5 separate regions of the Homo sapiens genome follow, and all the other regions are linked to region 3. Evidence: fine-mapped expression QTL. A gene starts in region 3. Each other region holds a variant in brackets. All regions are shown on one strand. Distances are between the middles of the regions. Region 1 overlaps PLXNC1 (plexin C1). Region 2 overlaps LOC124902986 (a long non-coding RNA gene). Region 3 holds the start of PLXNC1 (plexin C1). Region 4 overlaps PLXNC1 (plexin C1). Region 5 overlaps PLXNC1 (plexin C1).

Region 1 (6,176 bases), 24 kb before region 3:
GAGGGATTTCTGCTTCCGTGGCCCCTGGAGTCTCATCTCTCTCAGATGACTAAAGGACAGGTCAGTGTTCATATCATCTCTCACCTAGCCCGAGCCCCAGCCCACAGGCACTAATGGAACACTTGGACTTTCTAATTGCAAACTTCAGGAGAATATCAACACACAGACAAAAGCCAGCAAGACTGGAGCAAGGGAAACGTTCCTTCCTCAGCTCAGTTTAGGTGGGCAGCCTCGGAAAAAGAACATGATCAGTGAAGCAATGCAGGAAGTAACAATGAGTCACAAAAACCCAAAACGGGTTGAATTTTGCATAAGAGAAATCTCATCCAATTCACACACACAATCCTTGGGCACGATGTGGATTTTTATCTTCCAGGATACGACCTTAATATAGATCTAATCTGAAGTCAATCTGAACCTTCTCCATGTGTATGCTTGTATACTCCTTTATCTTTCAAGTCTCCAACATCACCTCCTCTGAGAAGCCTTCCCTGATCACTTCTCCGCTGAACACCTCTGTCACTCTCTACCCATCACTGTATTTTCTTCATAGCACTATCTGAAGTGTCTTTATCGCTGATTAATCCATTTACTTGTTTTCTGTCTTTTTCTTCCCACCAGCAGAGCAAGGGCATTGTCTGTTTTGTTCACCTTTGTATATTCAGCACCCAGAACAGTGCCTGGCACATACAAGGTGCCCAGTAGATATTTATTAAATGAAAAACGACGCTATTAGCATTCAAGATTTTATAGGGCTCTTCAGCTTTTTCCAGCTGAAGCCTGTGTAGAAAACAAATTTTCTCTGATGGAGAATTTCAGTTCGTGTCAACATATTGTTTCTGTTGATGTCTTCCTGAAGCCTCATGGTAGACTATTAACGAGCCTTGGGATTTTTGTTGCATATAAAACTCCCAACTACACTGCTGAAATTAACTGAGTGGAGATTTCAACACCATACAATTGTAAGACAGGTTCAAGATCACCCACAGGAAGGATATCATGGTGAGGAAAATGAGGGGGGAGAAAAATTAAACAAAAAACTATTTTTTTTTCTTTACGATTACCATGAGATGGAAAAGCCACGGGTGTTCAAAAAGCTATAATATTTTATGCCAAATTTAATTTCCTATGCCTCACTCTGTGGGGCTAACCAGTTGAAGGGCAAACAAGCCAACCCTTTCATTTATTATTATTTTTTTCCATAAGCAGTTTCTGAGAAATGCTGGGAAGGAGACTTAAACCACACATACACACACACAAGCTCACACACACATATGCACGTGCATGCCTGCATACATATACACACACGTGCATGCCTGTGCATGCGTGCACACACACACACATGCACACACAGGAGAAAGCAAGGTAAGTATTTAATGTGCCTCAGTAGTTAGGAGTAACAAAGATGAAATATAAAGATCAAGGCAAATTTCTCTTTTGTTTCCAATCTACTTATTGCAGTGTAGGTAGTAAGAGAAGCATACAGTCTGAACCACAGGTTCTAGATTTGTGGATTATATGGGACTAAAAGTTTCAAACTGGGGAGTCCCTGCAAACTCATAAATTGCAATTAATGAGGTGGGGAGAACTTGAAGCAGGCTTCACATGACATCCTAAACAGCCAACCAATGAACCCACTTCCAAGTTTTGACACTTCCTCCTGTTTTAACTTTTTGGTCTGTTAGCTCAGTCATCCCCACCACCACCACCACTTCCGGTCCCAGGTCCTGTTCTAGGTTCCCCAAGTTCTCCTATTCCTTATTTGAACATCTTCTGGGTATATAGTACAGCTTGCCTTTACAAAAGATTTTTTTCTCTGACATTCATTCAAAAACTTCAATAACCAGAGTCAAGGCAGACTCTTTAGGCAGTACAGAGTTTTTGCTTCTGTTTGAATTCAGACAGAACTTTTTGGAACCGGTTTAATTTTGCTGTGATTTGAATAAACGAAATCCCTGAGTGGCGCCGTGTGCAGTGGCTCATGCCTGTAATCCCAGCTCTTTGGAAGGCCGAGGTGGGAGGATCTCTTGAGCCTAGGAGTTTGAGACCAGCCTGGGCAACATGGCAAAACCCTGTCCATACAAAAAAATTAGCCAGGTGTGGGGGCACAGGTCTGTAGTCCCAGCTACTCAAGAGGCTGAGGTGGGAGGATCGCTTAAGCCTGGGAGACAGAGGTTGTAGTGAGCCGAGACTGCACCACTGCACTCCAGCCTGGGCAACAGAGCCAGACCTTGGCTCAAAAAAGAAAAAAAAATAAACAAAAGAAAGCCATTAAGTGGGAGTAGAGGGCCACATAGGTAACCAGTCTGAGCCCAAGCACATAGGAAATACCTCAAGACTGGATATGGGGACAGGATAGAGCTATGTGATATAGCTTCCTGTATCCTGAACCCTACTGCAGTCCCTGGGAGGTCGGGGAGACACTAGTCTTTACTGCTGACACCATTCAAAACAGCAACTTGAATACAGAATTCCTACCTTTCCTACAAAGGAGCCCACTGGGGTAAAGCTGGGGCCCCAAAGGAGATTCAGAGACCCCCGTGGACTACGCGCAGCTCAGAGAGGAGCGGGCTCTGCACTCAGCTGGGTTGCCAGGAAGCCATCCCCAAATAGGAACAAACTAAACCACAGGGTTCTCGGCCCCTTCTTATGAAACCTCAAACATCTGCATCTTGGTATCAACCCTTATACCCCAGTATTAGAAAGAAATATAACAAAAACCAGCTCTCAAACTCTACTAAGCTCTGTAAGAGTTAATGCAGTTTAGTTGGGGGATAGAAGCTCGGGCTCTGGGACAGAT[T/G]ATTTTGGTTCAGAGCACCTTGAAAAAGATACCTAACCTCTCGAGGCCTCAGGTTTTTTCATTTATAAAGTGGGGATGGTGAGAGTATTGACTGGTAAGGATTAAACCAGTTAACCCGTGCAGATGCTGGTTCTAATGCCCAGCACACAGGAAGAGCTCAGAAATGTTAGCGATTATTCTTCCTTGCCCATTGCCTTCTTATCTTTTATGCTTACACGAAGGTTAATGGGCATGCATAAAGTTACAAATTTCAAATTTCATGCATATTCTGTTATTACTTACTTTACCACCTGGAAAAGCTCAAAATATGCAATTCTGCCTTTGAAATAAGGACAATTTTCTATGGGCAACAGAGTCAGCTCAAAGGAATCCAAACCACATGATAGGCTGTACTATAATCTGGAGAAAGACTCGGTGTGTGTTTACAGAAATGCATACATTGTGCAACACGTGCAGTGTGAATTCCCCAAAGCTGAGTTCAGTGTGACCATACTTTTCAGCTGATCTCAGTGGAGATGCTGACGACTGAAAAAAACCCGGCATGCAATCATGTTCCGAAAAGAAGCAGGATGGGGAAATAACTGCGGGGGTGACTAGACATAACTCACCTCACGACCATGGGACGGTACACCGATAAAATAAAAGAGCAGATTAGATGCTCTCAAAGGACCCTTTGAGCTCTAAATTCCTTCTATTTCCCCAAAATCTTATAAAGGGACTTAGGTCTATAGGCAAGAGAAGGAGGACAGTAAAGGTACTGGCATACTGTAGCCTTTAGTTTCTTCACAGATTATCAGTGAAATCTTACCTTTGGAGGTAATGCCGTCTTCCTTGGAAAATGCATGTCTTTAAAGATACTTTAAAAGTGATCCAGTATCTTAGCTTAAGTTCAAAATAATGTACCCAAATAATAGAATATGATATAGTTATTTAAAAATACTTTTTACAAAGGGTTTGCAATAACATTTTAATGTAAGCATTTTCCCTCACTAACTGAAGAAAAGGATGCAAAACCTGACCTCAACTACATAAATAGAGAATCCAAAATGCTGACAGCAGTTGCTTCTGCATGACATGATTAGGGGTAATTTTTTCTTTGTTGTCCTCTCACCCCCGACGACTCTGCAACTTTTTACATGAGCATATATTACCTTTACAATAAGGAAAAATTATTTAAATAACATGAGGCTTAAAATTGCACCAAATTATATTAAAACTCACAGGATTTGCAGAGATTTAAGAAGTCAGGTTTTTACTGGTGGTGGTAAAAAACAGCAGTTGGGCCCCAATTGCTGTTTCCTGACTCTCATTCAACAAGGTATACACAACAGTGCCTGGCACATGTCAAAATGCCGTCAACTCATGATCACTCAGAAACTGATGAGTCAGGCTGTGGCTGATCCAAGCCCTCTTTCTTCTCCTCCTCCTACTGTCTGCGTTGGGTTGAGTTTTGTTTTTTGCCGCTCATTAGTTCCCCCACGCTGTGGCTTAAGGAGCCAAGCTTGTGTCTATCAGTGTTCATCCTTTCTAACAGTTCTGGTGACAAGCCTTGGCAAGGGAGAAGCTGAAAGCTTCTGAATAAAGGGATTTGAGGATTATCGGTAGTTTCCAAATCATCCACACGATCCTGGGTCTTCAGGATTCTGGGTAAATTCAGGGGCTACATCCAAGAATCTGTACACAGGATACAGGGGAGAGGCTTGGGCATTACTGAGCTGCCCTAGGGAGCCTGGTGGGGCAAGTCAGCTCAAGTTCATCCCTCACACCCTTCTCCTGAGTGAGAGAACTTCTCTCTTATTGGGGGCTTGGGGGGTGGGTGTTAATTCCCAAGAAGTTACCACGCCAGTGAGGTATTTCCTCAGTCAGATGGTCCGCCTTATTCTCAAGCTGGGACTCTTTCCTGAGCCTCTAGGAAGGCTGACTCACCCCAGGAGCATGTGTCCCCAGCCACGGCATGGAACCCTATCTGCATGTCTCCCATGTGCCCCCGGAATCCTCAGAGAGTAGTACCAATGTGTGCGGCAGAGGTTGCAAAGTCAGTGCAGCATAGGGGATCTTAGTGCAGTCTCTGAAGTCATTCCAGGTTCAAATCCCTGCTCTGCCCCTGTGTGACCTTGAACAACAATCATCCCATTTCTCTGGGCCTCGATTCCCTCATCTGTAAAATGGGAATAGTAGGCCTGCCCCATTGTGTCATGGAGAGGACTGAATTCGGTAGAAGATATAGAGTCCCTTGGCATCTAGGAAGCACTGTGTAAATGTTAGCAGTCACAAAACAAACAACAAAAAGCTGCCTTTGTTATTCAAACCTTGAAAAAAACAACGAGGCCACACAGGTGGCTTCTGAATGGGTACCCCATACAGATCCTGAGGAGAGCGAGACTTCGGTCGGCTGCGGCCTCCTCAGCAGCATGAAGCTGCAGCTTGGTCCACTCCCTGGTTGCCACAACATCGCTAAAAGCTGGCCAGCGGCATGCAGGCTGCTGGGTGAACACACAGGACAGGCAAAACCAGGCCATCCCATGGGGAACTATTTATAGACGAGTGTTCCTTCACCTCCAATTCACCATGTAGCGGTTTGGTTGGCTCGGCTTTGGGGAAACAGTGTTCTTGTCAAAACACTCATCAAAAACATCCCAAATCTGAAGAGATAATTGGTGAGGAGGCCCAGAAAGGCTTGATGGAAACTCCCGCCAGGCAAATGGGTCCAATAAGCCTGACCAGGTTGGTGGAGCTACAGACGTCACCCAGTGACTTGTGTAGAATGATGGATGGGTATTTACCCTTCCCCAGGAAATAAAGCTAACACAACAGGAAAGATGATCAATGTATATTTTAAAAGAATGTGTATACAAACAAACTCCCTCCCATATGTTACTGGGTTTCCTCCAAAGAAAACAGATTAAATCAAATGCCTACCAGGCACTCAGCACTGTATTAGGCTGTGGGAATTCATGGCCCCCTTCTCATGAGGCTTAAAATCAAGTTGGGAAGGCAAGACAGACACCAGTGAAAAGGTGAGGTCTCCAGGCAAGACATTTGGAATGAGCCACAAGAATGACATAGATCATGAGTATTTCAGGAAATGAGAGGAGAGCAAGGTCACTCCAGGCCTAGATGTCATCAAAGAGGAGGTGGGGTTTGAGCTGAGCCACAGCATAGACACATAAGGTGCCGTAAATAAGAGAAAAAAGAAAAAAGCATTTCAGGCTGGAGGTACAGTGTGAGCAAGTGTGGAAACAGGATCATATTTGGAAACAGGATCAAACAGGAGCAAGTAAATAGGTTTGGCTTGGGGATGGGGATGGTGGGGAATACGTGTGCAGAAGACAGAATTAGAGACTTTCAGAAGAGGAAAGCGTTTTTCTGGGTTGTC
Region 2 (6,176 bases), 21 kb after region 3:
ATTCCCTATTTAATAAATGGTGCTGGGAAAACTGACTAGCCATATGTAGAAAGCTGAAACTGGATCCCTTCCTTACATCTTATACAAAAATTAATTCAAGATGGATTAAAGACTTATATGTTAGACCTAAAACCATAAAAACCATAGAAGAAAACCTAGGCAATACCATTCAGGACATAGGCATGGGCAAGGACTTCATGAATAAAACACCAAAAGCAATGGCAACAAAAGCCAAATAGACAAATGGGATCTAATTAAACTAAAGAGCTTCTGCACAGCAAAAGAAACTACCATCAGAGTGAACAGGCAACCTACAGAATGGGAGAATATTTTTGCAATCTACCCATCTGACAAAGTGCTAATATCCAGAATCTACAAAGAACTTAAACAAATTTACAAGAAAAAATCCCATCAAACAACCCCATCAAAAATTGGGCAAAGGATATGAACAGACACTTCACAAAAGAAGACATTTATGCAGCCAACAGACACAAGAAAGAAATGCTCATCATCACTGGCCATCACAGAAATGCAAATCAAAACCACAATGAGATACCATCTCACAACAGTTAGAATGGTGACCATTAAAAAGTCAGGAAACAACAGGTGCTGGAGAGGATGTGGAGAAACAGGAATGCTTTTACACTGTTGGTGGGACTGTAAACTAGTTTAACCATTGTGGAAGACAGTGTGGCGATCCCTCAAGGATCTAGAACTAGAAATACCATTTGACCCAGCATCCCATTACTAGGCATATACCCAAAGGATTATAAATCATGCTGCTATAAAGACACATGCACACATATGTATATTGCGGCACTATTCACAATAGCAAAGACTTGGAACCAACCCAAATGTCCATCAATGATAGACTGGATTAAGAAAATGTGGGACATATACATCATGGAATATTATGCAGCCATAAAAAGGATGAGTTCATGGACATGGATGAAGCCATAAAAAAGGATGAGTTGTAGGGACATGGATGAAGCTGGAAACCATCATTCTCAGCAAACTATCACAAGGACAGAAAACCAAACATTGTATGTTCTCACTCATAGGTGGGAATTGAACAATGAGAACACTTGGACACAGGGTGGGGAACATCACACACCGGGGCCTGTCGTGGGGTTGGGGAGGGAGGAGGGATAGCATTAGGAGATATACCTAATGTAAATGACGAGTTAACGGGTGCAGCACACCAACATGGCACATGTATACATATGTAACAAACCTACATGTTGTGCACATGTACCCTAGAACTTAAAGTATAATTAAAAAAAAAAGATTTCTTATTTCCCAGATCCTCCCTCCTCTCTCTTTCCTACTCCTTAGCTTGCCCTCTCATCATTTCATCACTAGGCTATTTTAGGTGAGACTGGTGGTCCTGGTCCCAGGTTCATTGCCCACCTCCTCCAACCCAGCCTTTGCATTGCCCTTTCATTGTCTTCCGATATGGAAAGCTGATGGGATTACTTCCTGTTAAAAATCCTTCAATGACTCCCCATTGTTTCCCAATTGTTTTATACCATGGCTTCATTGGGCCCCACTCTTCTTGGCAATACCTTCCTACACCAAACAAGGGCACTGGCTGCCAGAGGTGACCAGCCTAGGAGCTCCCTCTGTCAGGTTCCACCCAGCAGTCCCAAGGGCTGAGAGGGCAGGGTAGTATCTCAACACTCTATGGAACACTTATTGGGAAGCCCTGACTTAGAGGATACAGCTTATATTTCTTAGCTTGATATATAAGGTCCCTGCCTGACCATTTTTGCAATATTGTGTCTTCCATTCCTTCATGTGCACATGTGACTGGGCTCTGGGCTGAGCTAGATGAAGAGTAGCTCCTTGGGGCCAGCTAATCTGAACTCTGGGGATCTATTGGCACAGGCTGATAAGCCTGCAGATGATTGTTGCTGTTTTGGTCTGTCTAAAGGAAGAGGTTGATGCTAGCCTTCTATGGAAAGACACAAAGGAAAGTAGATGAAATTAGTATGCTTACTATTCCTCAGACATTCCTTAATAGAGAGCAGGGGTAGTCAGCAGCTAGAAGGTATACGCTGACCAAAAGTTGATGACATTCAGGGCATTTATCTTGGGGTCCCATTCCATGAATGGAGCTAGACCCATTCACCTTCGGGTCTAGTGGCAGAGTGAAACACAGAGTCAGAGAGAAGGGCTTTCTTACTCTCCTTGCATCAAAGGGAGGATAGAGAGAATCAGGGAAGAAGCTACATTCTCAAAGATATTCCCCTGGGGACTCCCCAAAATGACTGGAGAGATTGAAGGAGGAAGAGGTTGAGTCCTAGAGTTATACAAGTTAGGGATAATCAGGCAGAAAAACTCAGGGGGTATTAGTTGTGACCCCATTGATACCCACTGGGGAGACCTGTGCAAAATAGTTTTCAGAAGCTGTATACATCGGTTGTGATGTGTTTAGCTATAAGGGGAAAAAACCCCTAATTACTTAGAACATAGGCAAGTAGAGGTTAATCTTTTCTTGCACAAGAAGGAGCCCAGTTGCTAGTACTGGTTGCTATTCAGTGTTACTATTAAAGAGCCCCTCCAGGCTTTTAATATCTTTCTCCTGTCACAAGATAACTGCCACAACTGTAAACATTGTATTTGTTTTCAAAACGAGGGGAAGGCTACTTTCTCCTAGCAAGACTCTGTCTTTTTTTTTTGCCCAAACAGAAATCCCTGAGCAGACTTCCCCCTTAGACGTCATTGACCAGAATGTGGTCACATGCCCACACTATACCAATGTCTGGTGAAGAGAAAAAGAATGACCATAATTGGCTCATGATTGGCTCATAAGCCCAAGTCTGGAGGAGGAACTTACCTTCCTTAAGATTATCCCAGATACACAACTAGGTTCTCTTAGCAGGGAAGAAATGAGTGTCCGGTACGTAAAGAATGCTTGTGTATTGTTACATCCTAAAAGAGTCACAGTTCTCTGATGCTGGAATTCTCCCCGTCCCTCTTGCCATTGCCTAAATCCAACCCATGCTTTGGGTTCCCACTCCAGCATCTTCTCTGACTCTCATTTTCATTCTCCAGAAATGACCAGCCCTTTCTGGGTGTCACCGACATACCTAGTCCATATGCCTACACTTGCTCTTGTTACACTCCATCGCGATATGTATTTGTCTAGTGTCCCTGTGACCTCAGAACTCCTTGAAGGAAGTTCATATTATATTCATCTTTGTCTCTAATATCTAGTATGATGCCTGGTACATAGTGTTCAGCATTTGTAGAAGAAATGTTGCGTAATAAAATCCAAATAGA[C/T]GTAAGAAATCCAATATAGAAAATCATCATGTTAGCACTGACATCTTCAACCATGAAGGACCACTGGGTATGTACCATAGACAGTGATTCAGTTCAGCCACACCTATTTATGGGGGATCTATTGTCTGCCAAGCACCAGGGGCAACACAAGAGAAGGAGAACACAGTTTCTGTGGGAAGACCGTATGCAGAGCAAAGATAACTAACAAACAAAAATAGCATCTGATAAGTGTCTCATTAGAGCTACAGGAGAGCGTGGCGGTGGGGAGACAGAGGACACTGGGACAGTGGTAGAATGGTAATTAAAATCCACAGGTAATTCCAAGCCTTAATTTAATCAACACTTTCAACCTCCACCGGTCCACAACTTCTTAGTGATGTAGGAAAATTGTCAGATTTGAATGTCATTTCCTCGGGGAGCCCTGCCTATCTGTTGGTGCACCTGTGACCCAGTAGTAAAAGAACCACATGGTAAACAGCCAAAGAGGAAACCAGGGAGAAAAGGGGACCTTGATAATTCACAGCTTAGATAGTCAGCTCTTGAATAGCTGAAAGCTGATGCAGTTTTAACCAGCGATTTGAAGATCAAACGATTCCATATTTTACAATTGTACTGCATTTGAGGTTTTTGATAAGATGTGTTATTGGAAAAGAGGTAACTAAAACTGTATGAAAGGCACAGTGAAATGCACTAAATGGATCATTTTCGAGCCCTTCACTGCATGGAAACTGTGCTTGCAGTGGGTCAATACTGAGAGTCTCCTAAGGCATACTTAACATGGCAGCGGGGGGCATGAACCCCTTTGACAGTGTGGTGAAATCTATGGACTTTCCTCAGAATGTTTTAAAATGCATAAAAATATAATAAATAGAATTACAAAAGCTGTAAACTATGTTGAAATACAGCTACAAAATAATTTTTAAAATATGGCATGGTAAAGTGTTATTTAATAACAGTTTAAATAACAAAAACTAGTAACATCTCTAATACTTAATCATTATCTGAAGTAACAATAAGTATAAATCAAGATAGCTGCAACAACTGTCATGCGATTTGAAAGATGTGTGATTTCTCTTGGTGACAAAAAGTCACAGGTGCTACTGATACTATTCTAGTTTGTTGCCTATATTTGTAATTGCAGGGAATGTTAAATTTCAGTTAGAGGTAAGAGAAAATAAAGATGTCATTTTATTTTGCCATCCAAGTTCACAGACCAGGTTAGAAACTGCTGTTATGAGGTCCCTCTACCACATGGCAACCATGTTGAGAACTAGGGCCCCTACGTGTTTTCTTGACATTGATGCACACAGCTCTGGGAGGTCATGTCCCACCTATTCAAGCAATTAAATCACAATTTATATCATGCATCTTTAAAAAAATGTGTTCTTATATAGATAGGTTCAACAACAAGAAGAGAGAAAGGGTCCTATCAGGCTGCTGGTTGGAAAAGACCTTTATTGAATTCATTGCCATGAACTCTCCTTAGCACTTAGTTCTCTAAGACTGGCATTATTGTGTTGTCTGCTGAGTTAGTAGCTTGCTGGATCCTTTACATCCTCTTGTGATGTTCTTGCCCCATAAGATGTGGGCAGTTCAGATATAGGAAATGGTTCAGGAAGAGGAAATTCAAACTCTCCGCCTAGAGAAGCTGTTTGCTCTTTGCATGAAAGTGCTCTTTGAAAATGGCTGAGGGATAAAGACAGGGCTCTCTGGAAGGGGAATTTTGTGCCCACTAAAATATAAATAAGGAAGTCATCTTTTTTTTTTTCTCACAAATGCAAACTTGAAATCAATTCACTGGGCCAGTTGCATAGGTATAAGAGGTACAGTTCCCTTTTCCTGTTTATTTTAGTACTTACCTAAATGAGAAGGGTGAAGGAGTTGTGGGAAGTGTCTTAACACTGCGTGGAAGGGCAGATCACTACTTTATTGTTGCGAAAATGATGTTCCTTTTTAACTTAGAAATTAGCGCATCAGGCCACAATTCTCCTTCAACAATCACCATTTCGCTGATTAAGTGTGTCTTCAAAGATTAGCTTTCATACCTGTAAATTAAAAGGAAAAAAGGTAAAATTCATTCGACAATAGAACAATCTACATCTAAACAGTAGGTCGTCATTAGTGAAAAAACCGGGGGATTTGGAAAAAACAAAACAGAACAATTCTAAGACCAAATTTATGAGGGCAACACATTATAAAATATGGAGCTATCACATCTTCATATTAAAAAGGCTTTTGACCACTTACATATTTATTTAAAAAAAAAAAAAAGTAAGTCTAAGAAAACACCTTCTGGGTAGCTGTCTCCTTGACTCTAGATCATACTTTTTCCCAATCACTTGCATTTGTATTTTGATTATAAGACAAGCAGAGCCTATATCCTATTCTATTACAGCTATTTGTGTGGTTTTTTTCCTTGACTTTGAATTTTTGGAGCTGGCATCTCCAGAGTCATGCCAGGCAATTAGCAGGTTCTTAATAAACCTTTGCTGAATCGAAGGGAATTCGGAGAAGTATTGCTGATGAGGGAGGATACAGAAAGGGATTTTTCTATAAAGCCTGACCAGCAGTGTTAAAAAAGTTTTCCACCAATAACATTAATAATGGATTTTTTAAAAGAAACAAGCTTTTACAATTTGCAAAGTACACGGAAGAAGTCTACTAAAGAGGCTCTCAATGAGCAGTGTAAAGGTCAGAAATAAACAAAATTAAGTCTGCCAGAAGTCTGAAAATTGTCACTGTGCTATTATTGATGAAATTACTAATTCCAATAATAATCGTGGCCATTATTGCATAGTGACTTGTGCAGTTTCTTCATCTGTGAAATAGGGACATGAATAGACCCTCCATCCTTGGGTGGTTATGAGGATTAAATGAGTTAATGCACATAA
Region 3 (6,176 bases):
TATCTTCTCTACCTATTTAATAGGTTAGAAAATTGTCAGCTTTTTCATCAAAACTACCACCCTTTTTCATTCAAACTCCTCTTGAAATTCAATTCCATTAAGGCTTTTCAATGCATACTAGCAGCAAGGAATTTACTTAAATGAAAAAAAAATGCAAAGCTCCAAGCTCCCACCTGTGCAGCCATGACATGCTATTGTTTGAACCAGAGTATATTATTTAACTTGGCTGACAAGCTCAGGGGGTACAGACCCTGTCTTTCAGAACACACAGCTCTGAGCACACTGGGAGTTCTTGATAAATAGCAGCAAGAAATGCTGTGGAGGGACCCATTTTAATTATTTATTTTTCCAGTTCCAGATTTTTGGCAGCATGTGTTTATCCTTTGCTTGATTTCCAAGGGGCAGCTCTCTCGCAGAAGCTCCGCGACTTCCTCTGCCACTGCCCCTCCCCATCCCGGCACAAGCAGGAACACCTGATTGAGCCAAAACGTGGATTTTGAGTGCATTCAAGATGCTGGCTGGGTTTGGAAGGGAACTGAGTCTTCCAGGACCCAATAGGTAGAGAGACGCAGTCAAGAGAAATGTTTTGGCTCCACACATCGACACAGCTGTCAGATGGCAAAGCTTGGACTTTCACCCTCATTACCTGCTGTGGGCCTCTGAGCTGGCTTGTCATTAACCCCAGAGACTAAGTGTGTCTAAAGCTTGACACAAAGTAATATTTCGGGGGTACTTTCAAGTCTTTCAACAGAGAAGTAGGAAACGATAATTTTACCAAACTTAAACCGTTAGATTATAAAGATCTAATAAAGACAGGAATCAAATATTACATTATATGTGTACGGCAACAGCAAGTCATTTAGGAGGCAAATATGTGTTTTTACATATTTTTAAAAATTATACCAGTAACAAAATGAAGGCCTTAATGTGTGTGTCCCAGCACACAGCTTGACAGGCAAAGAAGCAGCAGCAAGTGACCGTTCTAAGAAGCCTTGCAAAAGACCTCCTGGTTTTTTTCTCCCTGGCTCATAGGGCTAATATTTGGTAAGATGTGCTTTGCAGAGAAAGAAGGGGGTGGGGGAAGCTGTCTTTCTATACACATATTAATATACCTGGGAGCCAACGTGCCCCTGTATCAACACATTTTCCAAGCAGTGACTTCTCCCCTTCCTCTCTGATTCATTTTGTACCAAAACAATGGCAACACCTGTAGCCGTTAATTTCTGCGCTTTGATTTTTGTCCAGTTATAAAGGAGGCTCCCAGCAGGCTCCCCTCTCAGGAGCCATATGTGGAGTTGATGTGCCAGCCGCCTTGGAAGGGAAACGGCCTCCGGAGAAGTGCACAATGGCTCCATAATCCCCATCAACTGGACCCTCTTGAACTGCCTCTTTATTTTCCAGTCAAAGAAATGCCAATCTCAAGATAAAAGCTGTGGCTGCCCTGGGAGCCCAGGGGAAACCTGTATCGCTTGCCTGGTTCAGCCCCAGGGTGGTGACTCTGAGTCCCGCCATCTAGTCTCGCAATCTGGAGCCCAGAAACTGCCTGTAGCACCCCCAACACTTTCCCTTGCACTCCCCTCTAGGATGAGGCTTTTACCACAAGGCCACCTCCCGCCCAGCCTCTCCCGGCGGCTGGCGACCACAGCGCACCCTGAGCAGAGCCACGGCACCGCCCCCTCGCACCGGCTCACGCCAGGGGTTCGGTTCCAGCGCAAGCCTCTGTTGCAGGCTGGCATTTCTCCACGCTGAGCGGGCTAGCAACTCTTCAGACCACAGCACTTGCGTTGCCGGTGGGGGGCGGAGACAGGGGGCCACAAAGGCTGGGGTGTGGCAGGGAGCCCTTTAGGTTCAATGGCTTCTCTGCCGAGGGCACTGTGTTGCTAACTGTTGACCAAGAGGGTCAGACCCACACGCCTGCTGGGACTACACGGAAGGGGCACAGAGAAGTCTGGAGAAGCGAATGGGAAAGAGGGGCTGCGCGAGGAGACTCAGCCCCAAACAAGCGTCCCCGTTTGGACAGGGAAGGATGGCAATGGGATGCAGCCACTAGAGTTTTGAGTCTAACTCCAACCCTCCCCGCCCCCCTTTTTACACTCTCCCTTTGGGGACCTCAGGCCGTGCTCCAGGTCTCGGGGACCGTCCGAGAGGAGCCTTCGGACGGCCGCCCGCGGTGTGAACCTGAGACCTGGTAAATGTCACCCGGCTGTACCCCCGCCCCGCCGCTCGCCCCCAGCTCGTTCTGCCTCGGCGGCGGCGGCGGCTCCCCGGCAGCAGCGCTCTCCGCGGCGCCCCGGGGGCAGGACTTACGCAGTGGCTCTCGGCCGTCTTGAAGTCCCAGCTGACCCTCTTGGCGCGCGCCTGGATCTCACTCATTCTGAAGAGGCAGAGCGCCGTGGTGGTGGGGGAGCGCCGCTCCTGGCCCTCTCCAGCGGCCGCGCTGAACACTCCCGCCCAGACGTCCAGGGCCTCCACTAGGCTGGAGGAGAGGAGCAGGCGGCGGCCGTCGGGGTGGCCGTGGCCGCAGTCGAGGGATGCCTGGCCCTGGAACAGCACCTCGGTGCTCTGCGCGATGCGCGCCATGCTGGGCCAGCCGGTGGCAGCGCCGCTCGTGTAGTTGTAGGGGTAGTAGGGGAAGTAGATGCTGCCGTTCCAGAGAAAGGCGTCCACGAAGTGCAGGCTGCCCGCGCCCTCGCACAGCTTGAGGCGCCCCAGCTCCTGCGTGGCCAGGCTGCGCCCCTCCGTGTCCTTGAGCGCGATGGCCGTGTCGTGGTCGGATGCCGCGGGGTTGCAGCGGCTCGCCGTCTCCGGCTCAGGCAGCACGTAGGTGGCGGCCACCGCCAGGTACCAGCGGTTGTTCCGGCCCGCGCGGTACACCACGCCGGCCGTCGAGCCCTGCGGGTGGCACGACACCACCTCGGTGCCGTTGCGCAGGGAGTTGCGGCTCAGGTTGCCCAGGGGCCGCACCTCGCAGGCGCCCCGGTCGAAGGTCCAGCCGGTGAGCAGCAGCCCCCCGAGGCCGGCCGCCCCCTCGCGGTAGGGCAGCAGCAGCTTGCTGAAGCTGCTCCCGGGCCGGGGCCGCGCGGGGGGCGCCAGCGAGACCGGCTCTGTGCAGTTGCCCGCTTGGTCCCGGTACAGGCGCGAGAGGCTGTGCTCCAGGCTGTAGTCCAGCTGGTCCAGGCAGCTGCCGCTCGCCACAAACACGCCGTCCTCCTGGCTCGCCGCGATGGCTCCGATGGCTTGCTCCGACCGCCACACGGGCTCGTCCGCGCCCCGGCCGGGAGCCGCCAGTGCCAGCAGATAGGCGAGCAGGGGCAGTGGCGCTGCGGGGCGCGGGGGGCGCGGCGGCGCCTTCCTCCGGGAGACCTCCATGGGGCTGGGGGGGCCGCCCCCGGGCAGGGCGCGCGGCGGCGACGGCGGCTCAGGCGCGCGGCAACGGAGACGCGGGCGGCGGCGGCGGCGGTTCCTGCGCGCGCTCGGGCTCCCGCGGCCGCCCCATCCCCGCAGCTCGCCCAGGAAGGAGAGCGGGGAGGGCGGCGCGCGGCAGGCTCGCTCCGGCAGCCTGTGCAGCGGCGGTGGCGGCAGCAAGCCCTGCGCGCTCCGGCACCGTTTCCTCCTCGCCCTCCTTCGCCGGAGAGTTCCTGTGTGCAGCGCTGGCGCTCGCGGGGAGGCGCGGAGGGGAAGGGAGGGGACGGGCGGAGAGGAGCGAGGCGGGCGGGGAGGGCTGGAGAGGTTGGGTGCGCTTGTGCGTTTCACTTTCCCATTGTGAAAGTGGGATGCAACTGGCCCCCTTCCTCATCCTCTCTTCCTCCTCCGCCCTCCGCCTCCTGCCCGCCCGCCCGCCCTCCCTCCACGCCCATCTCCCCTCCCCTCTTGATTCGGTGAGATAGGGAGGAGGGAGGTCTCGTAATTTGGGTTACTGTGTAGGTGGCCTCTTTCATCTATTCATAACAAAGCTCAGCCGCCCGCCGCGGCCGCCGCGGCCGCCACCATCGCCCCCTTGGCTCGCCTGGGGCTCCCGGGGCGCGCTAACGGCGCACGGAGCGGGCTCCCGCGCCCGTCCGCCCGCGGTGCTGCTCCAACGCCCGGTTTTGTTTACGACAGCAGCCGGGTCGGGGATACGCCAGGCGCGCGGAGCGAGGATCCAGGGTGCGAAGGGGTTGCAGCTGAGGCCCCGGGCTCGGGCCACAGGGCTGCTGCGAGAGCGGCTGACAGGTGTGGAGCGGCGAGAGGGAGGCCCCGGGGAGGCGCGCGGGAGACATGGCCGAGCCGGAGACTCCGGGGACCAAGGCGCCCCTGTGACAGGGTGTGGGTTTCCCCGGGTCGGATGAGTGAGGTGGCAGAAAGGCAGGCGCCACACTCTCGTTCTGGACAATCCCCAGGGCCGGAGCGCCCATATTTGCAAAGGTTCTCTAATCTCCCTTGGCAACAGAGTCCCAGGCTCTCAAGCCTAGCACTTGGAAAGTTCTGCTCACCATCTAACCTAATGAGCGGGGCTAACATTTACTGAGCACTTACTACGTGCCGGGTGCGCTTGTGAACTCACCACATGGGTTAAGACTCATAATTCTCATAACAGCCCTATTAATTAGTGACTGTTATTGTCATCCCTACTTAGTAGTCCAGGAGAATGGTTATAGAAAGGTTGTGGAACGTGCTGGCATTCTACTGCTGGTAGATATCAGAGCCGAGATTCGAATCCATATCTAGCCCCAGGGCCTCTTACATACCTGGCTCTAGTTAAGTGCCACCTGTGGCCATTGCCATAATCCCCCAGAGATCATTCTCTGTAGTGAGACTGAAAAGTTCCTCAAGTTAAATGCACCAACCAGCCCCCGCCCTGCTTTCTACTATTAGACCCAAGTCCCCGTATTTCCCTCGAGGCTCTCCATCTGTCTCATCATTACCCACTTTTATCCTTTGGACCCCCTGAGGTCTCACCACCTCACCCAGAGGGTGAATAACAGCTGGGTTGCCCCCACAGCCGCCAAGAATTTCTGAAGCACAGGGAATCATTGCCCACTGGGGAATAGGTTCATGATTTCTCGGAATGGGGCTTCCCAGAGGATGCACAAATGCCTCCCAGCTTCCCGGGGCAGCTGCGGGCACCATCAGCACCCTTACAGTCTGGCAGATGAGCCAGGGGGTGCATAGGAGTGGAGGGTGCTGAGGACCTCTATGGATCGTTGGGAAATGATCTCTGTTCCTTCCCAGGCTATTTCCAGACCCCAGGCCCCAGGGAGGGCAATTGGCTGCTATCCCCTTTCTTCCTTCCCTCCAAGTTCCCCAGCTCGAGATGCTGTTTTGGGAAGGGAAAGGAATGAGGTGGCTTTTGTCCCATGCTGAGTCCTGCCGAAGGTTGCAGGTTTCAAACTTCTCCAACAGTGCTTCAAGTTCTCCCCAGTGCTGAGGGATATGGCAGGAGTTCTGGAAGGCTTAAGGAAAGAAGGGTGAGGTGGAGGGAGAAGAAGAGAAGTGTGAGTTTCTGCTCTAGATGTGAAGTTCAAGGATCCTATCATTTCAGCAGTGGCTCTCATACACTAAAGTCAGAGTGGTCATCTTTTCATTCATAAGCCTTTCATTTGCAATTGGATAACATTATCTTTGCCTGGCAGGAGGCAGAAAATGCCTTCCCACGAGATATGAGGTTGCCCTTTGTGCTGTGATGATGGTGTTGGAGTGTCCATAAGGAGAGGGGAGGAAGAAGGGGAAAGGCCTAAAGTACCCAGTTGGTGTTAATCGGGACATCTCAGGCAAGACAAGTCAGATGTTTCACCTGCTCCAAAATATCTGGCCTTGCTCCCCCACTCCCTGCCCTCCTGGAATGCTTTCAGAATTTTTGCACCTCTGGAAGTGGGAAGATCAATATTTTAAAAACCTCATCCGAAGCTCAGAGACCCCCTCCACAGCATAGTAGGGGATTTATGCGCTGGTGTTTTGACAGTTTTCCCTGTGACTGATGCAGAACTCAGTGACCTTCACTGGCTCCGTGAACCAGCGGTGGCAGTGTCGCTATGTGCTGAGAAGCAACAGTTCAATTCCATTCCAGAGATAGTTTTACTTCACTGGTAACCAAGTCATTTCTCTAAGTCCCGTAGAGTTGGTACAATCAGTCACAGACCATCTTGGGAGCTATTTGGATTAAACATACTCTGTGGTGCGGCATTTTGATCACTACT
Region 4 (6,176 bases), 160 kb before region 3:
TAACAGGGTCCATACACATCTTCTGGTTTACTATATACAAAAACTGTAGTTGAAAAAAGATGACAATTTAAAAGTCAGCCTAAAGAATGTAAAGGTATCTATATACAAAAGGCTACCTTTTCTAAAATCTGTGTGCACATAATTAAAGAGCTTAATTTTTTTTTAATCGTGTGTTTAATTTTACATCAACCATATAGCATATATTTAGCAATATGACAGTCTACTGATTTTGGCTTTGTTAGAATAGAGAATAAGTGCAAATAATTAAATCCTATGGCTGTATTAACAAGGGGGCCATTGATTATAAAACTTGAACTCAGGTCCTTTTATAAACATTGTTGGTATTTAACTTTACTTCCCATTACTGTGGATCTAACCAAATAATTATGTGTTTTGTGTCCCTAAGTATGCTCTCATTTTTTTTGGTCTACACCCATTGGAAGCCTTTTTAATGTGACATCTTTTAGAGGAATTCTGCTGGAATAATTTCATGTTAACGAGGCTAAAGCTCAAGTCTCCCAAATTAAGTGGAATGTTCATTATCCCAAGGTGTTCATAGTCAAAAGTCCCAGTTGATAGTGAAGAAGGCCAGGACTGTAATTGAGCAGTCCTTAGCACCATTTAGCAAACTAGGTTTACTTACTACATAATATAGCTGCTTATTCACAGCATATACAGTGACACCTTATCTCTGAAAAATAATTTCCACGGAGCCACTTAGAATAAAAAAACTATTATAACTAGAAAATTGAAAAAAAAAAAAGACAGTCCACAGTTACATCAAAATGTTTATTTTTTGGATATAGACATTTAAAACATTCATCTCCAAGAACAGCTTCAATCAGGTATACAATAAGAAATAGACTTTAAATCCTAATACAGAAAAGGTAACAGAATTTTTTTGAATGCTGCTGTAGACACTAGTGTTAGAAAAAAAAGTTTATAAATGGTTTTGCACCAAAAAAATATGCAAAGAAACTTGAAAATAGAAATTGTTTGCCATTTGTTGCTCTGGTTGCTGTTTAATATAGACCCAGTGACTGATTGTCTTCAGCACACATCTAATTTGGCCATTTACTGCATTTGGCTAATGTGATCCAAAATGTGATCTAGATAGTGCTTTTCACTGGAGGATTGACAAACACGCTACATACATTAGTGAATCTTCATACCACCTCAGTGAGGTAGCTTAGAAATATTATACAGAAATTGAGGCACAAAGAGGTAAGTGACTTGCCCAAAGTTCCCAACAGCACAGTCCCTGGAAGAGGAGGTAACTCTCCACACAGGACTCATGTGCCAGAAAGCTGGACAGGGACACCCTCATGTAGCATTTAGTAAATACTTAGATAAAGCTGTAGCTGATCCTTTGAGTTTTCAGTACCCTAAAGTAGTAGGGGAAGTCTTTTGGGCAACTCTCCTACCCTTGGCTCTCAACTTTCCTACTGTTGTTCTCTTATGAACTCCTTCACCTCTTTGAAGACTGTAGCAGCCTTCAATGGGGACCAGACCTCTCACCTTTATTCTGATCTGTCATCTATTTGGTAGTTTTGTTTGTTTGAGGTGTGTCCGTTGGACAGACAATGGTCAAAAGCAACAGGATTGGGAAGGTGCCTATCAGGGTAGTAACTGCTTATTTTCTCTGATCAGTTTGTTGAGGTGTCACCTCTCTCATGCTTTTCCAGATAATACAGAAGCAAAAAGGAATTGCCTTTAAGACAAATTCATATTTAAATCCTAATGCTCCATACAGTGTTGGTAAATGATTTCAAGGAATATGTGATCAATGTTATTTGACTTGAAAAAATTTTCTTTCCTAGATGGGGGATTTGGAGCACCAAGGGTAAAAGGTGCCTGCCACAAGAAAAGCTCAAGAGTTGCCAATTATGCTGTTTACTTCTTCTGGTTTAATAGAAGGAAAACACAGTGGTATTAAAACTGGTCATGAGCAGCAAAAATTCAGGAATTAAAAAATCAGCACTAAAAAGACTACAGTATAACTGGATAGAGAATTCTTTAAAAAGAAAGGCATGAATAAAATGGGTATTTTAAATTCTTTCTCCTGCGAGGAATACTTTCAAAAAGTACATAGTAAGACTAAGATACCAAGTTGTATACTAATATTTTTCAGGCCTTGGGCCTCAAATATATATATTTATATATAATACTCCAGTGTGAACAGCAATTCGATAAAATGTAAAATGTATCTTTTTTTTTTTAAATCACACACAAGTATTCATAACCACAGGGTTCACCAGAAATCTAAAGCAAGGAGACACTCACTCATATAGAAATGGAGTTACTCTTCCACAGATCGTTCTGATCAAAGGTTTTGGAACAGAAATGAATTAATGATTTTTTTGTATAATATCCAACATGTCCACTATCAAATACATTTAGTATGAAAAAACAGATGAAGAAAAGGAACATACATTAGGACAAAGTATCTGGTTAAAATGCTGTTCATTTAAATAAAGCCCACTCTCCTTACTTTAGAGCTCCTTGGTGAAATGGAGGTGAGTTTGATGGAGTGCAGTTGATGACCACTGAAAAACACGAGCCCTTTCAACAATGTTGCAACACTGTTAGTTTTTGGTTTAAACACACACACACACTCACAAATGCTAAGTGTACACTACCAAATTCTGCGGTCAGCTTTTCCAAGAACTACTGGGGAAAGTTTCAATGCTGCAAATCCTCGAGGTTGCCCTAACACCCCCACCTTGTTTCCAAATGACTCATTTCACATTTTGTTTTGAGCACTGGCAGTATCCCTTTACAATGCAGAGGTGCAGTGTAGCACAAGTGCTACATAGCTGTAGTTTTCAAACAAAACCACTTATATCATTGTGCTTAAGTGGAGACTGTAGTTACAATACTGACATTCGCTTACTGGCCTTGTATTCTCTGTAAACAAGGAGGCTGTTTGCAACAACCACTTCAACTCTATTTACAGAAGGGTTCCCACGGTATACACACAGGCACAAGGGTTGGTATGCTTTCTAAAAGCTGTGCATGTGCCTTGGTCTCTTAAAAAGACAGTGCCCAAAGTGGAACCTATGTGCAAACAACAAATTAACGACACAGAGTAGCTCAAGCAGCCATTTTGCTCCCAAGTCGTCTGAAGAACTTTGCCAGATTAAGCCAGGCCCCAGAGTGCTTACATCCACTTGCATTTCTTCTTTTCATCAAATAAGACTTTTACATGCAAGAGTTGTTTCTGAGCTTCTTCCAGCCCTCGTTCTCTTTCTAGTTTATTTAGAATCTGTTGACAATTAGAACAGTTATTTTAGATATTGTGGTTTTAGCGTTACAATTCTGTTTTTTGCATACCTGATGCT[G/A]TGAGTGGTAAAATCTGTATGAAACAGATGCCAACATTTTCTTCCATCATTTACATACTCACTTTGCAAGTTGTTTTGCTAAGTCCTTATCACAGGATCAACAATACCTTGGCTTAAAATAGAAGCTCGCAAGAAATACCAACTATTTGCTTACAAATATGGGGCCAGGCTTCCTAGGCCCTGCTTTATGCATTATGTCACAGCCATTCCAAGCACAGCAAGCATTCCTGGGCAGCCAACATGCAGGCAAGTATTTCTCCTTAAATGCAGCAGGCAGGGACATCCTGGTCAGAGACAGATCCTTCCCTTCCCTCCCATCTGGGCAGTGTAGTCCCTCCTCGTGCTTCCCTTCTCTCCCCTGACCCCTGGAACGAGGGATGCTTATCATGTTTAAGAACTCATTGCCTCTACCCTACCTTAGAGCTTCACTTCATCTTCAAGTAGCAAATGGAATTGGTGAGCTATTCTCACCATTGACATGGATAGCCTGTCCCAGCATGATTGGGGGGGAATCAGGGAAGGGGGAGTTAACATTTGTTTGGAAACAAAGCATCTGATGAATGTGTCTGTTTGAATTTCCAAAGAAAAAAACCCAGATTAAGGAGAATTAATCATAAAGGAGAATGGTTTATTGAAATAGTCGCTTAAGTTAGAAATATGTCATAATTTCATATAACGATTGAATACAGAATCTAGGCAATTTAACAAGCTTAGCTTTCATTTTTAGCAAATTACAATCAAGCATAAGCTGACCCCATTTAATAGGGCCACTACTTACTCATCAAAGTTAACTTGAGTCAGGGTGGCTGTAGGCCCCATGAACTCAAATGTAAATTCAGGCTGGTCCAAATGTGGGCAGCATGATAAAACTGTAAGGGGGGCAGCCATGTACAGGGTCTGGCTCAGTGCCAGGATCCCCCATCTCAGACAGGCTTCCTGGCTTCCCTTTCTGGCCTTTTGGGATGCCAGAGCTGTTCTGAAACTGACAGAATGCTATAACCACATCCTTGTGCCTGATTCAAAGGTTAAAAACAATGTTATTTAAAATCTTACCTCATCAAAATATTTTACGATGTATTTGTAAATTTCTGTCAAGGCCACTTCTTCATTAAATTCATTTTCATGTTTCTAAAAGAAAGACTTGTTGAGAGATTCTGAAATGACGTAAAGTAACCAAATATAAGCTTATTTCTGCTTTCTAATGATACCTTAGATTCCTGAGTTAAAAATTCTTCCATTTCTGAGGATGACAATGGAGGCAAATCCCTGATTGCTTTGTAATAAGATTTTACTTCTTCTTTGTAGGTTGGGATATCCTTGGCATAGAGAAGCTTATTAGTTGGTGCTTCCTGGGGAAAAAAAAAAAAAAAAAGCAACCATCACCAAAAGAGTAAAAAAAAAAAAAAAAAAAGATGGAGGAATTTATAATATTCCAATGTAGCTGAACCCCCACCACCAACCAGTTTTACCTCTTGCTAACAAGGCTTCATGCAGTAGGCCTTAAATGTTGTTGACTGAATGACTGACTGCTATCTAGATAGTTCTGGTGAGTCACTGTTATTTTCAGGCAGATTAAATGCTAATATATTCTGCCTTCCTCTCATAAAAGAACTAAAATTATTATTTTTGCATGATTTTGAGTTACTGTAACAATGGAACTTATTTCAATCATAGTTCATTACTAATGGTTGTAAAAAGCCTGAATTAAAACATTTGCTCTCATCCTCACCCACCAGTGAATTTGGCATTTACAAAAGACTTGATTGTAGGTCTGATTGAGCCCTTTATATAACCATGAAACTGGTAAGTAATTGGCAGAGGCAGATTTTCCAGCTTGTCCCTTTTATTTCATTAGATTATAGACATCATCCAGTTTCTTCAGGGAAGCACATGGTCATTAGTATTGGTGGCTCTGATGTGTGATTTTGCAGAGGTTCTCTGGCAATTTGAATGATTCTACGTAATTATAACAGTGATATTTAAAAATTAAATATGATTTTATTTTTAAAAATCATTATTTTTCACAAAACTTTAAAAAATTCTACTCAGGGAAGATAGGTAAGTTAATGATAGGGCTAATGTCCCAGCCCATGAGGCTGAATCAATGGCTTGATGAATCATTCTGAAGGATGCCTAGAGACTGAGATATTATTGAGATTTTCTCATTTGTCAAATTTAAGTGGAACCCAGAAATCATGCTATCATTCATTCATTCAATAAACATTATTAAGCACTGGAGCAGGCATTGAGAGTACAATGATAAAGACTAGTGGCTGCCCTTGAGAAGCTTACAATCTAGTTGCAAAGACAGATTTATGAAGTGCTTACTATGATACAAATAATTAGCAGCAGTAGTTGACAGAAAGAGTTGGACAAATCAGAAATCATAATTCTGCTACTTTGTGTGGTTTCAGGCAAGACTTGTAACCTCCCAGAACATCAATTTTCTCATCTATAAAATGAGGGTAATAATAACTACCTTATTTGGTACTTGTGAGGATTAAGTGAAGTGTGTCAAGAACATAATTCATAAACAACTGTTTTTAGTGTGAACAAACATTTAAGTGCCTTTCAGTGTGCTGCATGCTAAGATGAACTTTATTAGTCAAATGAAGAAAGTGCTGTAGGAAATATATTGGGGAAAGTTCACAAAGTAGGCATATGTAGACTGATCTGAGTCTCCTACAGTTTCTGGTCCTCATTAGGAAATCATATTTGTCGAATGAATAAAATGTTTATGATGAATGAATGGGTAGGATTTTACTAGACAGAGGGACTGTGAGACAGGAAAGATGAGCAAAGGGGTGTGAGAACAAGTTCATGGTGTGAACTTGG
Region 5 (6,176 bases), 97 kb before region 3:
TGTTGTTCCTTATTTTTTTTTGAGACAGGGTCTTACTGTGTTGCCCAGACTTCTAGAGGCTCAAGTGATCCTCCTGCTTTGGCTTCCCAAAGTGCTGGCATTATAGGCTTGAGTTGTCTCTCCCAGCCTAGTTGTTATTCCTGACTTAAAACTTACTATTGGCTGGGCGCGGTAGCTCACACCTGTAATGCCAGCACTTTGGGAGGCCGAGGCAGGCAGATCACTTGAGGCAAGGAGTTTGGGACCAGCCAGCCCAACACAGTGAAACTCCGTCTCTACTAAAAATAGAAAAAACTAGCCAGGTGTGGTGGTGCGCACCTGTAATCCCAGCTACTTGGGTGACTGAGGCATGAGAATTGCTTAAAACTGGGAAGCGGAGGTTGCTGTAAGCCAAGATCGTGCCACTGTACTCCTGCCTGGGTAACAAAGTGAGACTCTGTCTAAAAAAACAAATAAAACTTATTATTAACCCCATTTATCATACAGATGGACTAAGAGAGGCTCAGGAAACTCAAGTGATTTACCTAAGGCCACAGAGCTATTAACTGGTGCCAGTGGGACATGAACACATTTTTGTTGTTGCCTTCCAGTCTGAAGTTCTTTTGCATTGTCTTTTATCCAATTATTTATGATGATAGATCAAGAAGAATTTATATAGGCTGTACAGAGCCTCATACGGCATGAATACTATAAAGGGTGACTTCTAATGTGTTTCCCTTCTCAGTGGTCTCACATCTTTATTATGGGATATAAATATAGCAGTGATCCGTCCCCCAAACATATCTGGGAAAAGATTAATCGCAGAAAGTATGACTTCATGGTGAAGGAAGCAGCCCATGACCCAGAGATTATCTGGTCTCCATCTGATTCTAATGCTACCCAGAGTGTGCTGAAGAGGCCCTTGTTTGTTTTGGGTTTCTGCTAAGACATGTCACCTCCGCATTTGAGAAAAGAGTGACAGCTCATTTGTCAATGGGTCTAGAGATTTTGCTTGCCGATCCTACTGTATAAATGTGTGGCTAGAACAAAAGCTATCAAGACTCATTAGGATTATAGACAATGGTGTGTCCAACGCTTTGACGTTCGAACAGGCACAGGGATGGATTCAGCCAGCTATTTTGGAGCTATTTTGCTTGGGCTCGCAGTACCAGCTTTGTTTATCTTCTATTTAAAGTGAGGATCTGAAGATCCATGAAAGATTCCATTCTGGCCTCTGGTTTAGCCAAGGAATTATCACAAAAATCAGGTAAAGACAGCAGGTGGGACTGCCAGGTCACTTACCCGAACTTTCTTAGAAGAGTTGGCAATGGTGCTTGCAGTCTTGATGCCTTTAATTTTGCAAAGGATGGTGGTAAGATCTTGATTTCTAGTAATATTTTCAAAACTGCAATTTAATTGCCCATTTTCCCCATGGAAGAGAGTAATTTCAATGTCTTTTTTGGAAATGTTGAAGTTGTCATTTTCTTTCTGTAAAGAACAAAATGAAGATGGAGAAATCAGAGCACATGTAGAAACTCACGAGCATAAACACACCTTTCCAGTCAAGGGGTCGGGGTGACATCCCACCCAGAAAGAAAAGAAACATACTTGAATTTTCACTTCCAGTTCTGTGTCCACCTCGGATTCCACCCGATACCCCGTGAATCTGGGGTCCTCCCGATACTGCAGGGTTCCACAATCCAAGTAGGTGTCTTGTACTCTCAGCTTCACAGTGACATTCGTGCGCACTTTTGAACTCTTTAAACTGGGGGCTAAAAACCCGCAGTAAGTCGCCACACAATATTCAGAGACCTGGACAAAAAGAAAAGAATGTTTTAGTAACTTTGTTAACGAATCCCAGCTGTGATCTCTAAGAGCTAAGTGACCTGAGCAACTTAACTTCTTGGTGCTTCTGTTTTCTCATGTGTAATATGGAGACAGCAAAACTACCTCCCTCACAGGATTGACTTCACCCTACATTACATTAAATGAGGGCTACGTTAACTGAGATTATACATGCTTAGATCAGGGCCCGGCACACAGTAAGCACTCAAAACATGCTAGTTAATATTATGATTAATATCATGAGTGACAATGAAAGCAGCTGGAAGGTTATGCCATGGGAAAAGAGACTAGGCTGAAAGCAGTAGGCTAGGGAAAGGGGAAGATTCTGACCCAAGGGGCTTAGGTGTCCTTGGGGTCAGCCTGTCTGAGCCCTGGGAAACCACGAGAAAAGAAAAGTGTCCAACTCTCAGCAAGGGCCAGCTCCTGAAGCGCTTGTTGCAGCTGAATCACCCTTTGTTGGGGGAACCTCCTGCAGGGCCTTAGCAGAAGTCACTAGACACAAGGAGGACAAGGGTTTTCAGGCATAACAGAAAACAGGAGAAAACAAAAGTAAAAGGAACAATGCATCTCCCATGAAATGAAGAGCATGAAAACTGAAAACAATGCAAAAAAGGTGGCCTGATTTACAGGATTAAAAAAAAACAACAACACATAAATAGGCTGGGCGTAGTGGCTCACGCCTGTAATCCCAGCGCTGTGGGAAACGGAGGGAGGAGGGTTACGTGAGCCCGGGAGTTGGAGATCAGCCTGGGTAACACAGTGAGACCCTGTCTCTCTCTATATATATAAAAAATAAAATTTAAAAAGTTAGTAAATACATAACATAAATATATTGTCCTGTTTAGGTGTACAGAAGGACAGGCAGAGGAGGCTGGTGGGTTAGGGGAGGATGGCAAACATTCTACAGAAAAGCAATTATAACTCATAAAAAGAAATTTATCAGGTGGGAAAAACTATTTTTCCCCCACCCCCGCCACCCCCTGATACTAGAGCATAAAAAAGACAATAGGAAGAGGCAATTGGTGGGAAAATATGATGTAAAGAGCTGAGATTTGGACAAGCACAACCTTCCTTTCCCTTCACATCTTTCCAAACTATAGCCCTGAATCTCCTGCTCACATTTCTGTCCTCAGGATGAAAACCACTGTCTCTACTGCCTCAGCAGCCTTAACTCCTAGCAGGCTGGCTTTTTACTGAAGATGCCTTCTAGAAGGATTGCAGGTGAGAGGATCACCCAACCCTATTATCCTCAAGACTCTACAGTTCCATACTCGTGACAAACTCGCGCCATGCGATTTACTCTTTTTCACTGGTTTCTGAGCACCTTCTCGGCCACCTTCACGGCCCATCCTACTGTCTGTCATTCCTTAAAATGAAGCTTTGCCACCAGTCCTAGGTGCTCTTTTCTTCCTCCTCTGTGCTCTCACTCCCATGATGTCACCCCCACTCTCCCTTCAA[C/T]GATACTGCTATAAAGACAAGCTGGTCATCTCTAGCTTCACGATGCCCCAGCACTTGAGACCTGCTCTGCTAACCACAGCCCAAAGGGAGCTACTGTCAGCCCAGAGAGACTGTGGACGTCTCAGACACACCTGCACTGGCATGAGCATCCTCACTGGGCTCCCAGCCTTTCTTCAGTTCCTGCCTCTCCAAACTCAGCTGTGCACCATTGCCAAAATAATAACCGCCCTGCAGGAGGTTCCCCAACAAAGAGTGATTCAGCGGCAACAAGCACTTCAGGAGCTGGCCCCTGCTGGGGGTTGGACACTCTCTTCTTTTCTCGTGGTTTCCCAGGACTCAAGACAGGACACCGAAGCCTTTTGGGTCAGAATCCTCCCCTTTCCCTAGTCTACTGCTTTCTGCATAGTCTCTTTTCCCATTGGTAACCTTCTGACTGCTTTCATTGTCACTAATTGTCTCGGTCCAGTGTGAGTCCAGTGTACCTAGACCTATGTCACTTCCTGCTCAGAGATCTTCAGTGGCTCCCTGCTGCCTACAGAATTAAGGGCAAAGTTTTCAGTCTGACGCTGCTTTTTGTGGCCCCAGCTCAGTTTTACAGCTATCGCTCTTGGTCATTCCAGACCCACCCTCTAGGTTCCCACTAAGCAGGATTGAGTGATGTTCCCAGCACGGGCCTGCGAGGACTCTGTCCTCTGTACCTGAACTCACCTCCCTGCTTCCACCCACCCCACTCCATACTGCAGGCGTACTTAATCCCATGCATGTTTAATTTCTCTTTAATGTGAAAAGAAATGGTGTCTTCTTGGACTCACAGGGTTTCTGAACAGTTAGGGAACCAGAGGACCTAGAACCTGATGATACTCTGTGCTGTCAACTTTTTTAATTTTTATTTTATAGAGATGGGGGTCTCACTATGTTGCCTAGGCTGGTCTCGAACTCCTGGCCTCAAGCAGTCTTCCCGCCTTGGCCTCCCAAAGTGCTGGGATTATAATCGTGAGCCACCACACCCAGCCTCAACTTTCAATCCCAATGTAGATTTGCTGCCTGCCTCCATGAAGGCAATATGACTATCTCACTTATCTTTTGTCCCTGCACCCAGCAAAATGTTTTGCCTGCAGTAGGTGCTCAAAAAATTCAACTTGATTTGGGAACAGCAAGTAGGAGGGAGAGCAAGTCCGTGACAAACTCAGGTAATGCCTCTGCTCAGAGGGTCAAACTATACGAGCCATTCAACTGGAGGTGTTCACACCATGGAGATGAGGCCTGGAGTCAGATACAGTGTGAGGCTTGGAAGTGGCTCTGAACTGTGTCAGCAGGTGAATGTGTGCACCACAAGGCTGTAAGGACGGCCTATCAGGCGGCCCCCGGAATTTGGGTCTGAACCCACACTGCTCCTGAGGAGGGAGTGTGTCAGCCTTGGCAGGAAGTGGTCAGGCAGGGCCCCAGAGAGGCAGCCACCTCACATATCTCATCAAGGAGAGGGAAAAAGGGGAAGAAAGAATGGGGAAGGATATTTAGAAGTGTGTGCAAGTACACTTGGAGGCCTGACTTGTATGTGAAATCCCTCATCTCCCCTCTTGGCATCAGAAGCTTCCATCTAGAGCAGCCGTGTCCAGCCTTTTGAATGTGAGGACTTTTTTGCTTATCTGTGGTGGTGGATATCACGGAAATTATGCACAAACCATTTTTTAGCTCATTAGCTATCGTTAGTGTTGGTGTATCTTATGTGTGGCCCAAGACAATTCTTCTTCCAATGTGGCCACAGGAAGCCAAAAGGTTGACACCCCTGCTCTAGAGGATCCCCATCTGGAGGCACCAGTGGGAGAATCGGGCAAAGGTGGAAACCAGACCCCTCCTACCATTTCTCCTGTGGGGAGACGAAAGGTAAGAGAAGGTGACATCAGATGGTAGGGAACAAATTGGGTCGAAGAGAAGGAGAAGCACATGACAAGATTTCTGGGACCTTGGCAAGTCATCTAACCTCTGTGAACCCAACTCTCTCTGTGCAATGGGAACAATACCACCTACTCTTCACAGAAATGCAATTCTTTATATCACACCTTAACCATTCACGGAGCATTTTCACACATATTCATAAGCATTGCCTCATTAGGGTGACTTGCCACAAATCACATAAAAAGAAAATGTCAGGTCTTATCGTACCAAGTTCATTTCTCTTTCCTCATTGCTGCAACTAGAAATACTCAGCTACAAGGATAAGGTCTTATTATTTCCATTCTAGCATGGATAGAATATATGATAGCATAGGTAAAAGTTTATAACACCAAAGTCACAGAAACAAAAAATACCCCCAACATAGCATAGTGTGATGAAAATAGAACCATCCTTGAAAACAACTATTATTACAAAGCAGCTGGAGACTTACATTTATGTTTCCTTTTAATTCATGTGAAATGATTAAGTTGTCAATTACATCAAAATTTCTGCCCATCATGGTTATATTTTGACCACCACTGCAAGGAATAAAAGCAACAATAAGGGTTTCATAGCTAACACACAGGCATTTTGCATTTATGAACAAAGCTATCAATTTATTCATGTTTAATATTAAACCCAATTATGTTTGAGAGCAAATTAATGAATTTTAATTTCAAATACAGGACAATTTTGGGAATCTTTTCAGGATACCAGCCACAAATTCATGGGTTTCAAGATGCATAAATATAAAAATTCAGGTCAGATCCTATTTTAATTCTAGGAAAATGCCCAGATTCTTTGATGGAATTTGAATTTTGTTTGTGTCATATCGCCACATATAATCAGATCAGGAGCTGTACCTTGAAAAGGTTTCACTAAACAGAATTTTGTTTGATTACTGTTTAATCTATATAAAGAGACTTCAATCTAAGAATTTTCAAAATCAAACTCCTAAC

What was found. PIP is the estimated chance that this variant, and not a neighbour inherited with it, causes the effect.
Region 1: its variant is the best candidate, but not a certain one, in a credible set for the expression of PLXNC1 in whole blood (TOPMed, PIP 0.50).
Region 2: its variant is the best candidate, but not a certain one, in a credible set for the expression of PLXNC1 in whole blood (TOPMed, PIP 0.79).
Region 4: its variant is the best candidate, but not a certain one, in a credible set for the expression of PLXNC1 in cerebellum (GTEx, PIP 0.79).
Region 5: its variant is the best candidate, but not a certain one, in a credible set for the expression of PLXNC1 in whole blood (TOPMed, PIP 0.86).

The regions. Positions count from the first base shown.
Region 1 is chr12:94,170,265-94,176,440 of GRCh38, reverse strand. All of the region lies in intron 2 of PLXNC1 (plexin C1), which reads right to left. It overlaps PLXNC1-AS1 (PLXNC1 antisense RNA 1), which reads left to right. Exons shown (of 2, transcript XR_007063411.1): 1 at 1-60. Among named protein-coding and RNA genes, the nearest start is that of PLXNC1-AS1, 3.1 kb to the left of the region's middle. RefSeq lists an enhancer at 4,721-5,230. The variant T/G (reference allele first, on the strand shown) is at 2,801.
Region 2 is chr12:94,125,018-94,131,193 of GRCh38, reverse strand. It overlaps LOC124902986 (a long non-coding RNA gene), which reads right to left. Exons shown (of 2, transcript XR_007063409.1): 2 at 4,724-5,330. Among named protein-coding and RNA genes, the nearest start is that of PLXNC1, 20 kb to the left of the region's middle. The variant C/T (reference allele first, on the strand shown) is at 3,286.
Region 3 is chr12:94,146,165-94,152,340 of GRCh38, reverse strand. PLXNC1 (plexin C1) reads right to left here and starts at 3,764. Exons shown (of 31, transcript NM_005761.3): 1 at 2,308-3,764. The coding sequence starts at 3,369. RefSeq lists enhancers at 1,238-1,297, 2,638-2,737 and silencers at 1,498-1,657, 2,138-2,277, 2,938-3,177, 3,308-3,537, 3,608-3,857 and 1 more.
Region 4 is chr12:94,302,270-94,308,445 of GRCh38, reverse strand. PLXNC1 (plexin C1) reads right to left here. Exons shown (of 31, transcript NM_005761.3): 29 at 4,550-4,690; 30 at 4,395-4,469; 31 at 771-3,265. The coding sequence ends at 3,161. It overlaps CEP83 (centrosomal protein 83), which reads left to right. Exons shown (of 17, transcript NM_016122.3): 17 at 1-748. Among named protein-coding and RNA genes, the nearest start is that of PLXNC1-AS1, 130 kb to the right of the region's middle. RefSeq lists a silencer at 2,519-2,618 and an enhancer at 3,233-4,112. The variant G/A (reference allele first, on the strand shown) is at 3,342.
Region 5 is chr12:94,243,518-94,249,693 of GRCh38, reverse strand. PLXNC1 (plexin C1) reads right to left here. Exons shown (of 31, transcript NM_005761.3): 12 at 5,669-5,756; 13 at 1,588-1,791; 14 at 1,282-1,467. Among named protein-coding and RNA genes, the nearest start is that of PLXNC1-AS1, 70 kb to the right of the region's middle. RefSeq lists a silencer at 815-1,015. The variant C/T (reference allele first, on the strand shown) is at 3,283.